Homo sapiens: one gene and its partners. The protein of the gene in region 3 purifies or fractionates together with the protein of the main gene of each other region. This does not show direct contact. Each region holds a gene or a part of one and is shown on either strand. Other genes may lie near its edges. The genes, in order: GPALPP1, SERPINB8 and CDKL5.

Region 1 (3,751 bases), on a different chromosome or scaffold from region 3:
ACTTTAAGGGTACCACTGTTTATTTCACAGGCAATTATCCACTAAAATGGAAAGTCCTTAAGGAGCTCTTGACTCTTTCTATCACCTGAAACCAAATACAATTCCTGACAAAACAGGAAAATTGATCATTACAGATTGAAAACAGAAATCCTGACAATTCTAGGTACTGATGAGTAATACAAACAGAGCTAGTGGAATGAACTAAGTGTGGAACTGCTTTAGTCAGAACTGATGAATTTATAATCATAAGGTGACAATTAGTCAAGCATTTGAGAATTGAATGGGATGTCTTACAGAAATTAAAACCTTTAGAGAGAGGCTGCGCACAGCGGCTCACGCCTGTAATCCCAGCACTTTGGGAGGATTGCTTGAGCCCAGGAGTTTGAGACTAGCCTGAACAACATAGCAAGGCCTTGTCTTTACAAAAATAAAAAATAAAAAAAATTAGTTGTGTGCCTGTAGTCTCAGCTCCTCAGGAGGCTGAGGCAGGAGGATCACCTGAGCCCAAGAGGGTTGATCCTTTGAGACTGCAGTGAGCTGTGATTGCACCACTGCAGTCCAACCTGGGTGACAGAGAGACCTTGTCTCTTAAAAAACAAACAACCAAACAAAAAAACCAAAAAGAAAAAACCAAAACCCACAGATGGATTAAATTGAAGGAGTAGTACTGGGGATACTGGTTTAATTCCTAATATACAATGAAATATTTTGTAATAAACAGAAAAAGATTCAAGAACAGAAGATTAAAAATAATGTATTTTATGCATACAGATTTTTGTTTTTTTGTTTTTTTTTGAGATGGAGTCTCGCTCTGTTGCCCAGGCTGGAGTGCAGCGGCGCAATCTTGGCTCACTGCAACCTCTGCCTCCCGGGTTTGAGTGATTCTCCTGCCTCAGCTTTCCAAGTAGCTGGGATTATAGGCACATGCCACCGCGCCTGGCTAATTTTTTTATTTTTAGTAGAGACAGGGTTTCACCATGTTGGCCAGGCTGGTCTCGAACTCCTGACTTCAGGTGATCCGCCCTGCCTTGGCCTTGGAAAGTGCTGGGATTACAGGCATGAGCCACTGCGGCCGGCTGGTATTTTTTGGATAACTTACTGTATTAATGACAGTGGTTCTTGTCTATCTTGACAGTAACATGAAGCTTAGTGCACCTGAGATATGGTCATTTTGAGAGAAATTCTCTAGGCACCATTTAATTTGCTAGGTTAATCTGCAGCTTTGTTTTTTTTTTCTAAAATATTTTAAAAGATATATGTTCATAAAGATAGTATGGTGTAAAAAGACCAGGGAATCTGGAGCTAGAAAGGTCTAAAATGAAATTATTTTTCATCACTTACTAGCTTTGTGACCCTAGAAACGTTGACCTCATAGAGGATAGTTTCTCCATCTATAAAATAAGGCCATTATACCTATGTCTCAGAGTTTTCTTGAGGTTTAAATGAGACCGTTTATTGGGAAATAGTAAGTAAACAGCAAGCAATTGGTGTCACTTTCCTTCCTCATACTCTTCCTCCAGAGGAAAATCCGCATTATCCTTTTGGAATCATAATTTTAAAAAATAGTACCCTTAAATAATTTTGCATTATATCTTTTCAAAATCCAGCCAACATGAACAGAAATACATGAACAAACAAACAAAACCTCTCACCTTAGCTTTCCTTTCCCTATCAGCTGGAGTATCTGTCCAGATTGATCGATCTCCAGATGTGTCATCAGCTCTTCTCTTAAAAGTCCTTGGCCCAAGACCAAAGTCTTTCATTTCTGGAGGAAGTTCAGTCATCCATGACTCTCTTACAATGGGTTTAGATGAATCCTTTAAGAGAAAAAAAAAACACAGCATAGAAAGTACATATCGTGTATAAGATGAGTACATATATATGTACAAGCAACTGTGTCATGCAATTGAAGTTTTAAAGTTACTTAACAAACTCTAATATAAAGGATCGATGTTTTTGTCACATATATTTGTCATATAAGTTACAAAGACGTTCATCCAATTTGTTATTTTTCTTTTAGAGTTTCTGGGTTCTAACTCCTAAATTTAAAAAAATGTTATGCATAAAAACAAAATATATTAAAAGTTATATAGTTTAGTGTTTATTTCTAAAATTTAGATTTTTAATCTATTTAGTGTATTTCTTAAAGTGTTTTTAAAACTTACATCATCTCCTTTGGTCAGTTTTTCTTTCATTCTCTGGGCCCTTTTTTCAAACTCTGTCGTTACATTATAGTTAACTGGTCCTTTTGCAGGCATTGGTCCAATAATATCCTCATCTTCACTGCTGTCTGTTTCCTTTTAAAACAAGACATTACCTTTAAACCAAGAGCAGAGCTACAGGTTATAAAAAATAATTCTAAATTACCTGCATTTAACTGAAACTTATTATCCATAAAAAATAAAAAAGTAAACAATGTATTGCTGGCTCATCACTGAACCATGAGGACTTTTTCCTCACCTTCCTCAAGTGCCTAGCACAGAGATGACAAATCCATGGCATGCAGACTCTCTCCCACCTCCCACCTCTCTTCCTGTGTCCATGACAGACCTCACTCTCTTCCTGAAGGACACAGATGTAGACTTAGAGCTCTTTTCAGCATAGTACAATAATTAGACAACTATATACTGTCTTGTGGCTTACTCTAATACACACACACACACAAACATACTCTTAATAACTATGGATTTTGTCATATACCTCATTTGATCCTTGTAACAAAACTGTAAAATGGCACTATTTCTGGTTTCTTTTTTTTTGGAGGAAACTTAGGCTTAGAGTGTAATAAAACTATTATCCAAGAATGAAACATTCCAAGATCAAGGCCAGTATATTTTTTCCATGTATACAACAGTGGCCTGTCTATTATTTTATCTCAACTGTTAGTGATTTAGCATTAAGTGTTTCTAGCTTATATCTACAATAGTAAGCTTTCTGATGTTACAGACATTATATTAAACATATTTATAACCCCCTACAGATATAAATATTTGGTGATGCAAAATGTTCAGATGTAAAAGCTATAATGAAATTTTAAAACTATGAGACATGAAAACAAAACAAAACACAAACTCTAAGAGTCATGGTACCAATACAGTATTAGTGGAATAAGCTAATGATCGTCTCACTTCCATCTTAATAAGAGATGGTTTAATAAAGGTAGAATTTCAGCATGTCCTGGTAGGATGATGCCTGCAATTTTTAGAAATAAGTATCACTTACGTTCAGGGGCAAACAAAAGCAGGGATGGAGAAGCAAACAGAAAATTAGGCCAAACACACTAAACTGAAAATCAGAAACAGAATATGCCCAATTCCTATCTATGGGTATTAAATTATTTTGGTGTCCTGGATGAGTTATTTCTTTTAATAAAAAAAATGGTGCACATTTTATCCAGAATTACAATAGAAATTAGGTACCTTACCAGTTTATACTTTGGGCTGACTTTGTTGAAGGCCTCATTTGCCATTGTACTAGCCCTGTGACTTCAGGCATGTTATTTAACCTTTCTAAGCCCTGATTTTCCTGTCTTTGGCATGGAAATTATAACAGCTTCTACCAATAACTACTCTATTGCCAAGAGAAGCCTGCATTTTCTTTATCCTCTTTAAAGCCACACCCTTCTTAGGGAACTGGGGCCTTCTCTAACACCTGGGGAAAAATATTGGTAATTCTAGTCCAGTCACTAAAAAAAAGTAGTAACTATTGTATGGACATGTTTACAAAATATTACAAAGTAGTCACTTTGGTC
Region 2 (3,751 bases), on a different chromosome or scaffold from region 3:
TGTGGCAGGAAGACAAAGGGCATGGTTTGTGTGGTGCCCCTGGGGTGGGTTTCTATGGTTTCCTGTGAGCCACGTGGTAGTGAGATAGGACGGACCCTTATGCCACATTTAGGAGTTTGAACTTGAGATTATGGTCTGGAAAGCCATGCATGGTTTTTAAACAAACGTCTCATATGAGTGCATTGGGGCTTTAGAAAGATAACCCGGCTCAGTATTTGGTATGAAAAGAGGCTGGGGAGCTGGCGCGTAGGCCACCACCATGGGCCAGGGACTGCTGAAAGCAGAGGGATTGTCTGCAATAGAGAAGTGGGGGCTGGAATTGCCAGGCAGTGACTGCTCACATAGGGACAGAGCACAGGAGGGCCCAGTCCCGAGGCGCCTAGCTGTTATAAATTCATACTCAGGGTGGGTCGTGAACCACTGGAATTTTAAATGAGGAGTCAGGCTGGAATGGGGAATATGACTTGTTCCATTTGAGATGCGTGGAACACACCATACCAGGTGAACCTGTAACAAAGACAGCCAAGGATGTTTGTAAACAGTTAGGGACGGGGATGAGTAGACTGTCTAGAGCCAGAGACCTGGAGCCATCAGCATCCCGATTCCGAGAGGTTCCATGAGAATGGATGAAACTACACAGAACATCTAGTGGAGGCACAAGGGAAGAAATCCACCTATTTCTGTGGAATTTCCAATATCTGGAGGTAGTAAAAGGAAGAGACAGAGGAGGGCGAGGGGAGAGCGCGCGCGCGAAACGGAGACTGAGACCCAGCCATCAGGGTGTGCTGGGAGAACTGGGGAGACGAGTCTGCCCCTGCGAGTGGACCCAGGGAAGAGGGCGCGGTCTACGCAGAGCCCGAGGCAGGGAAGCGGGAGGGGCCCGGAGAGCAGCCCTGGGTGAGGCCCTTTGGAATGGAGAGGTCTCAGGAGTGAAGCAGCAGCCAGAGGACTGAGAGTGTCTGGAAAGTGAGGAATTGGTTAAAGTAACGCCGGTGGCTGCAACAGAGAGGGGCGTAGGTGAAGAAGCACCCCCAACCCCATCCCATTTGAGAGGAAGCAGACAATGAAGAAGAGAATATGAAAGATACAGAAAGATGAAGGCAGGGGTGGAAAGAACGGAGGGGGGGGACAGGAAGGGAAGGAGAAGGTGCAACCAATAGGCTGTAAGCACAGGGGCAAGCTTGGGCGCCAGGGGAGCAGGGACTCGGCGCCTCCCCGATCTGCCCCAGGCGCCACGGAAATTCCAGGCCCCGCCACCCGCACTCCCGGAGCCTCCTCCGCAGCGGCGGCTCCTCCCACTCGCCCTCCCGGGGCTCCCGCCCAAGCTTCCGGCGCTTCCAAACTCACTGCTCGCGTCACCCCCCGCTCCCATCCGGCAGCAAATCACAGCGCAGCAAATCGCAAGCCTAGAAACAGACGCTCCCTCTCCAGGGGCAGCTTCCTATTCAGGGCGGGTCTGGGCGCACCTGTTCTCGGGACCCGGCCCTCGGCCTTCGCCGGGTCTCGCGGTGGGGCTTGGGACCCCGGCTGGTGCCAGGGCGACCCCCACAGCCCCGCGACTCTCTTTCCCGGCCGCCTCCCGCCGTCATTCTCCTAGTTCCTGCCCGCCTTTGCCTCGCTCTGATTCCTGCTCTGGCCTTCCTCCCTTCCCCTCTCTCACGCACTCCAGGGAAGAGGTGGCCTCCGCGGGAACCTGGGCACCTCCGTGCCTGCCCCGCCCGGTACCTGGCAGAGGCCCCCACCTCCTGCTGCTGCTGCTGCTGCCGCCGCCGCCGCCGCCGCTGCTGCTTTGACTATTCCTCCTTTGTAGATGCTTCACGTCCGCCTTGATTGAGGGCAAGGCTTCCGGCAGATGACTCAGAACCGTTCGATTGCTCTGGCTTGTGCAATCCCTGATTCTTTGGGCCTGTGTGGATGTCTGTGGGCACCGGAGAGAGGGCCAGTGCCTGGTCCTTGGAGGGTGGTTTTTATAAAAAGTGTACACATTGGCTATTGTCCTTTTTTCACCGTTGATTCACGTTTGACTCCACTGTAGTTAGACGTCCACCCAAACATTCTCTGAAATTGCTCCTGATAAGGATACTAATCATTTTCTAATTGCCTTGGCCAAAAAATACATCCCAGGTCTTATTTCATTTTGTTTGTTGGCGACATTTAGCCCTTTCTTCTTTGACCTTCCCAGGATTTCCAGAGCACCCTTCCCTTCTTTCCTGACTCCTTTGCTTGGTATCCTGATTCCTTTCCTACCATTCTAAGCCCTCTTCTTTTCATTATAATATGATCTTCTTGTATGACCTCCACTATATCCATAGGTTCATGTTTCAACTTTTAACTTATTTCTTCAAAATCTCTAACCTGTCTCGAGCCGTAGATGTTACCTGTGTACTACTGGACATCTCTCAGAAACCTGGGTGTGTCCCTCCGCAGTTCTTTTAACTAAATGATCAACAGTCCTGTTACTTCTATCACTTTTGTGTTCCTCCTGTCCATACTCTGTCACCTCTATCATGTCTCATGTCTCTCCTAAACAATTAATTTTCCTACCTACAGTTCTGATCCATGCCAACCTATTGCCTACTCTGAAGTTCAGGTAAACATTCCAATTCTAATTATTTTATACCTCAGTTTAAAATCCTTTATAACATCCTCTTATCCAAAAAGATAAATTAGAAACTATTGAGCAAGGAGTGTAAGCCTCTTCACGTCTTGATTTCTCCCTTCTTTTCTTTAGAGCCATAGCAAATTATTTACATTCCTTCATATCCTCTGTTCATATACATGGGGTTCCTGGCATGCAAGCTTGTCTTTCAAAATTCAGTTCAAATAATGTCTCCTGCAGGAAGCTCTCACAGAGCTCTCCAGTTTGGGAATTCTGCTTTTAAAGATGCACATTCCCACTCTGCACCCCAAACCAATTAAGTAAAGATCTCTTGGAGGAGGGAACCCAGCAGCAGTATTTTGTAAAACTCGCTCAGTGATTTCCCTGTGGAATCCTAAAAGTAACTGTTCCCAAGAACTCTCCTCAATAAGTCTTGGTGCAGGATTCACCCCCATCTTTTCTCCATGACTTTGAAACCCCTCTCTCTAGTGGCTACAGACTCACATTTGAACTGTGCCCAAACTTACCGGCTCTGCCAGTTGAAAATGCCAAGGTCACTTCCCCATTGTGCATCAATTTCTCCTTGTTGGTCAGAACTAGATCCAGACTTTGGGCCCCACTTTGTCCATCCACTCCTTTTCCTCTTTGACCAGCAAAACAGATTAAAAGATGAAAAATGCTTGTTTTCCTCCGTGAAACTTCCAGCAAATGCCTGGTGGTTTGAAGTCCTTTACAAAGGATATAATTTGGCCCCTGGGAGTTTGGTTGTAAACACAGATATCCCATGTAGGAAACACAGTGCGTGCAGGTGCAAAGAGGCACAAGATAGCACCATGAAAACCATGACGTATCCAGGCCTGCAGTGGTACAGATAGTGTGGATGAGGCACTGCAAGACAACGTCTGATGTGTCCACAGGGCCATGTCGTGAAGGCCATGTGGACGCTGTTGGTGGTGTTTCTTCGTTCCCTTGTGGACTATGGGGAAACACAAAAGGATTTTAAGCTGGGGAGAAACATAATCATATTTGTATTTACGAAGGTCCCTCTGGCTGCAACATGGAGTATATTGTAGGAGGGTACCATTGCCTGCAGTGAGGCGTTAAGGACGCAGCATGGATGAGAGATGAGGAAAGCTGAAATGAAACAGAGGC
Region 3 (3,751 bases):
AGCCTCTTAGAGCACACTTCTGCTTAGAGGCCAAGGTCACTTCAAATTCAACATGTCCGCAAGACACCAGTGGCAAGCAGCTGGCCTCAGCACCTGGAGCTTGCCTCATAATCCCAGCTCCATCCTGAGCTGGTTGGGTAAACTTGGAGCAACTCACCCAACTTCTCTGAGCTTCGACATGCTCATCTGTGAAATGAAGGGGTTGAATTAGGTGACTTCAAAACTACTCTCTTTCACTCCAAAAAGGAGGTCCTAGAAAAGAAACCATGAAGTCTTCCTTTTTCCTATATTCAATCCTTCAAATCACAAATCCTATTGTTTCTACTTCTGAGGAGTAGAAGATCCACTCCGTTTCCCACTGGCACTGACTTAATCCCAAACATATTCTCTTCACCTCGTGCTTGAATTATTGCAAAAGCCACTCCAAATTTTGCATTTTTCACTCCAGCAAAGTGGAACAAGTTGCAATGCCCAAAGCATACCATGCTATGTAACATCTGTTACCTTCCTTCTCCTTCCAATGCTCTTTTCTTCCCTCTTTCCTGAGGTCACTGTCACTTTCTTCCCAACCTTTCTGGAAGTCTCTGCTCAGGTGCCACCTGTTCTAGGAGCTCCCACAACTCACAACTTGGACTGTCTCGCTCCCTTGCCACACTGGCATGCCTCTAGCACAGTAGCCAGAATGTAACCTCACAGTAGTGGAACAACTTATCTGTTGACAAGTGTCCCCTGCCAGCCCACACACTTAAGACGACAGGGAACCTATTCTTTTCATCTTTCTAGCTAGAGCTTTTCATGTTGCCTAGCTCAGGACGTACCTGAACATACCTTCACTCTTCAGCCAATTCAAAGCTTGTCTATACATCCTAGCCCAGAGAAAGACCTTCAGTTGCCTGTAAAGCCATTTCTAACTGCTTCTGCTCACAATGACCTCTCTCTATTCTCAGTTCCTATTTATAGCCAGTGCCATATTGACTTAGGTCTTACTTATTTCATTGTGTGTTTGTGTGTGTGTGTGTGTGTGTGTGTGTGTGTGTGTGACAGTCTTGCTCTGTCACCAGGCTGAAGTGCAGTGGCACGATCTCGGCTCACTGCAACCTCCACCTCCTGGGTTCAAGCGATTCTAGTGCCTCGGCCTCCTGAGTAGCTGGAATTACAGGCACACGCCACCACGCCCAGCCAATTTTTGTATTTTAGTAGAGACGGGGTTTCACCATGTTGGCCAGGATAGTCTCGATCTCCTGACCTCGTGATCTGCCTGCCTCGGCCTCCCAAAGTGCTGGGATTACAGGCGTGAGCCACTGCACCTGGCTACTTATTTCATTGTTATCATGTATCAGTTTATCTTCCCCAAGAGCAGGTAAGTTTCTCAAGTGCAAGAGCTCTCTCAGACTCTTTTGAGTGCCTGGGAACACCCAGCATAGAAAAGGTGTTCAATGTCCAAATATCAGCCTCCACAATCACAGAAGCAGCAAGAATAACTAAAATTTGTTAGACACTTACTTTGTGCCAGGCACTGGGCACAGTACTTTATAGATGAAATCATGATAACATTATTTTTAAAACATGCTCTACTGTAAGAATGCTACTTCTTGTTTTTTTTGTTTTTGTTTCTGTTTTTGTTTTTGAGACAGAGTCTCGTTCTATTGCCCAGGCTGGAGTGCAGTGGTGTGATCTTGGCTCACTGCAGCCTCTGCCTCCCAGGTTCAAGTGAAGGAATGCTACTTCTTTTAAGCAGGTTAGGTCAGTTCTAGAGTTTGACGATGAATAAGATGGAGGAAGCATTATGCTAAAAATGCTGTTTTAAGATTTAAAAACAATCCAAAAGACTGAAAACTAACATTTATCCTGGTATGAAGTTAAATTTATCTGTAGTTCTGGACAAATTTAAAACTTTTAAATTCAGTTAAAATATTGAGTAAGGTACTAGCAAAAGCTTTTGATTTAAGCAAATGTGGTTTGGAGAGATCAGAGAAAATACCCATGAATTCACACTGTATTTTAAGAAAAACTAAAACCTAACTGATACAGCTGATGAATTCTGTAATAAATCAAAATAGGATTCTCTCAACAAAATATTCCAGAAAAGAACATTTAAGAAAAAAAAAAAGATCACTAAAAACAAAATTTGACTTTTCTTGAGTACTCAACGGTTGATCTAAATAGATTTAAAAAACAAAAAACAAAAAAACAGAGATTAGGCCAAGTATTGCTTCCCTAAATGCATCCTATCAAGAAAAGCACAACCTCCTGTAGTAGGGAAAATAGTAGATGGACCCTCATCACATCCCTCGTACCACCTTCCCCTGAAGGGCCACCAGATTCAGTCAAGGTGCTCAACTGTACCTGGGGTGACAAGAGTTGCAGGCTGTTGGCTCTAGCTGCCATCCCTTGCCCTATGCTCAAGCTTCCATCCAAGCCCTTGGCTCTCACTTTGTCACGGGTCACATACATAGAATGCCTATGAGGACGTTGCTGGGAAGAAAAGGGGCTGGTGTAGCCCAGTCCATAAGAAAAAGATTCGTGAGGTGCAGACAGTGAATGGGAATGGCTACTGTCCATGTGCTCCGGCAGCTTCAATTCCTCCATCGTCTTAGAATGTCTGGTTGTGGTTCGACGTGAGTCCAGCGTTCCCTCATTTCGGTTATTTCTTCCAGAAGGGCTGAGCAAAGTTCTCGTGTCACTGTGTCTGGTGGGGGTTGGGCTGGTGGGAGAATTCAAGTCTAAGCAGCTAGATGGGAAGTACCTACTGGTACTGGGCTCCGCAATTTGGGCCCTGGCTTCAGAAAGGTTGCTCACAGACTTGGAGTCACTCAGTGCCCCATGGCTTTTGGCCTTGGTCCTGTAGGAGGGACTCCTAGAGGACTGGGGAATTGTGTCAATATAGCTATGCCGACTCTGCTTTTCATTGGGCTGCAGTGTCCCAGCTTTGCTTTGAGAGCTTTCCATGAATGAGTGGCGGTTCTGCTGAGATCTGCTGTTTGACTTGAGGTACTTTGTCCCTGGGCCTTCTGAAGGCTTTGGGTCAATATTAAAATCAAACTCTGTTTTTGACTTGGCTTCTTTTGGGCTAAGAAGGTGTGGTATGTTGTTGTTGGTGAGATCTTTGCTGGTAGACCCAGGCTGGCTGCTTGCTTGGTAGGTTTTGGTGTGCAGTGGACTAAGACTAGCTCCAGCAAGGTTTCCATTTAGGAAGCTTTCATTGGCAGGGAGACCTTCGTCAGCCCGGGGCAGGCCTACACTCAGGTTCTGGATGTCCTTGCTGTTAGATCTGTGGTGAGACTGCAAAGCAGTACTTTTGCCGGCTTGGTTTCTATGTTAAAAACAAAAGAAGTATATCAGTTTCCCTCAATAGCTGACACACAAAAAGTATTGTTAAAAAGAAAGAACAAATACTCAAAACACCTGGAAGACTAAAAACATTAATTCTCTCAAGCATGTGCCTTCGAATAACAAGTAACCTATCAACAGCAATTAAGTTTCTTAGACCAACTCACTCTGTAACAAAGCACTGGCCTTGATGAAATTATTCTGGCACTGCTAAATGCTCAGCTAACTTGCTGTCAAAACAGTTTCTAAATGATAATCTGGTAAAACATACTCTCATTATATTGGTACTCATATGAGTGTTTGTGATAGAATGACTGCTAAGAAGAGAGCTGAGCTATAAACTCTTTATAACTCTTTTGTCTGCTTGAATGTCAGAAGACAACATTTAGACTTAAAGGTTACTATGTTTCTTGAACTTCAT

The links.
Region 1: the proteins of CDKL5 (region 3) and GPALPP1 purify together in Homo sapiens (affinity purification with mass spectrometry; 2 studies listed by BioGRID and IntAct, with this or other methods). This does not show direct contact.
Region 2: the proteins of CDKL5 (region 3) and SERPINB8 purify together in Homo sapiens (affinity purification with mass spectrometry; 3 studies listed by BioGRID and IntAct, with this or other methods). This does not show direct contact.

The regions. Positions count from the first base shown.
Region 1 is NC_000013.11:45,013,498-45,017,248, reverse strand, and holds part of GPALPP1 (GPALPP motifs-containing protein 1), read right to left. Parts: intron 2,318-3,751; coding exon of another isoform or gene 2,298-2,317; coding exon 2,166-2,297; intron 1,818-2,165; coding exon 1,653-1,817; exon of another isoform or gene 1,652-1,652; intron 1-1,651.
Region 2 is NC_000018.10:63,968,162-63,971,912, reverse strand, and holds the start of SERPINB8 (serpin B8), read right to left. Parts: upstream 1,833-3,751; 5' UTR 1,743-1,832; exon of another isoform or gene 1,409-1,742; intron 1-1,408. Other genes in the region: serpin-like protein HMSD, read right to left, coding at 3,262-3,575. UniProt on the Homo sapiens protein: Has an important role in epithelial desmosome-mediated cell-cell adhesion.
Region 3 is NC_000023.11:18,603,464-18,607,214, reverse strand, and holds part of CDKL5 (cyclin-dependent kinase-like 5), read right to left. Parts: intron 3,314-3,751; coding exon 2,347-3,313; intron 1-2,346. UniProt on the Homo sapiens protein: Mediates phosphorylation of MECP2. May regulate ciliogenesis.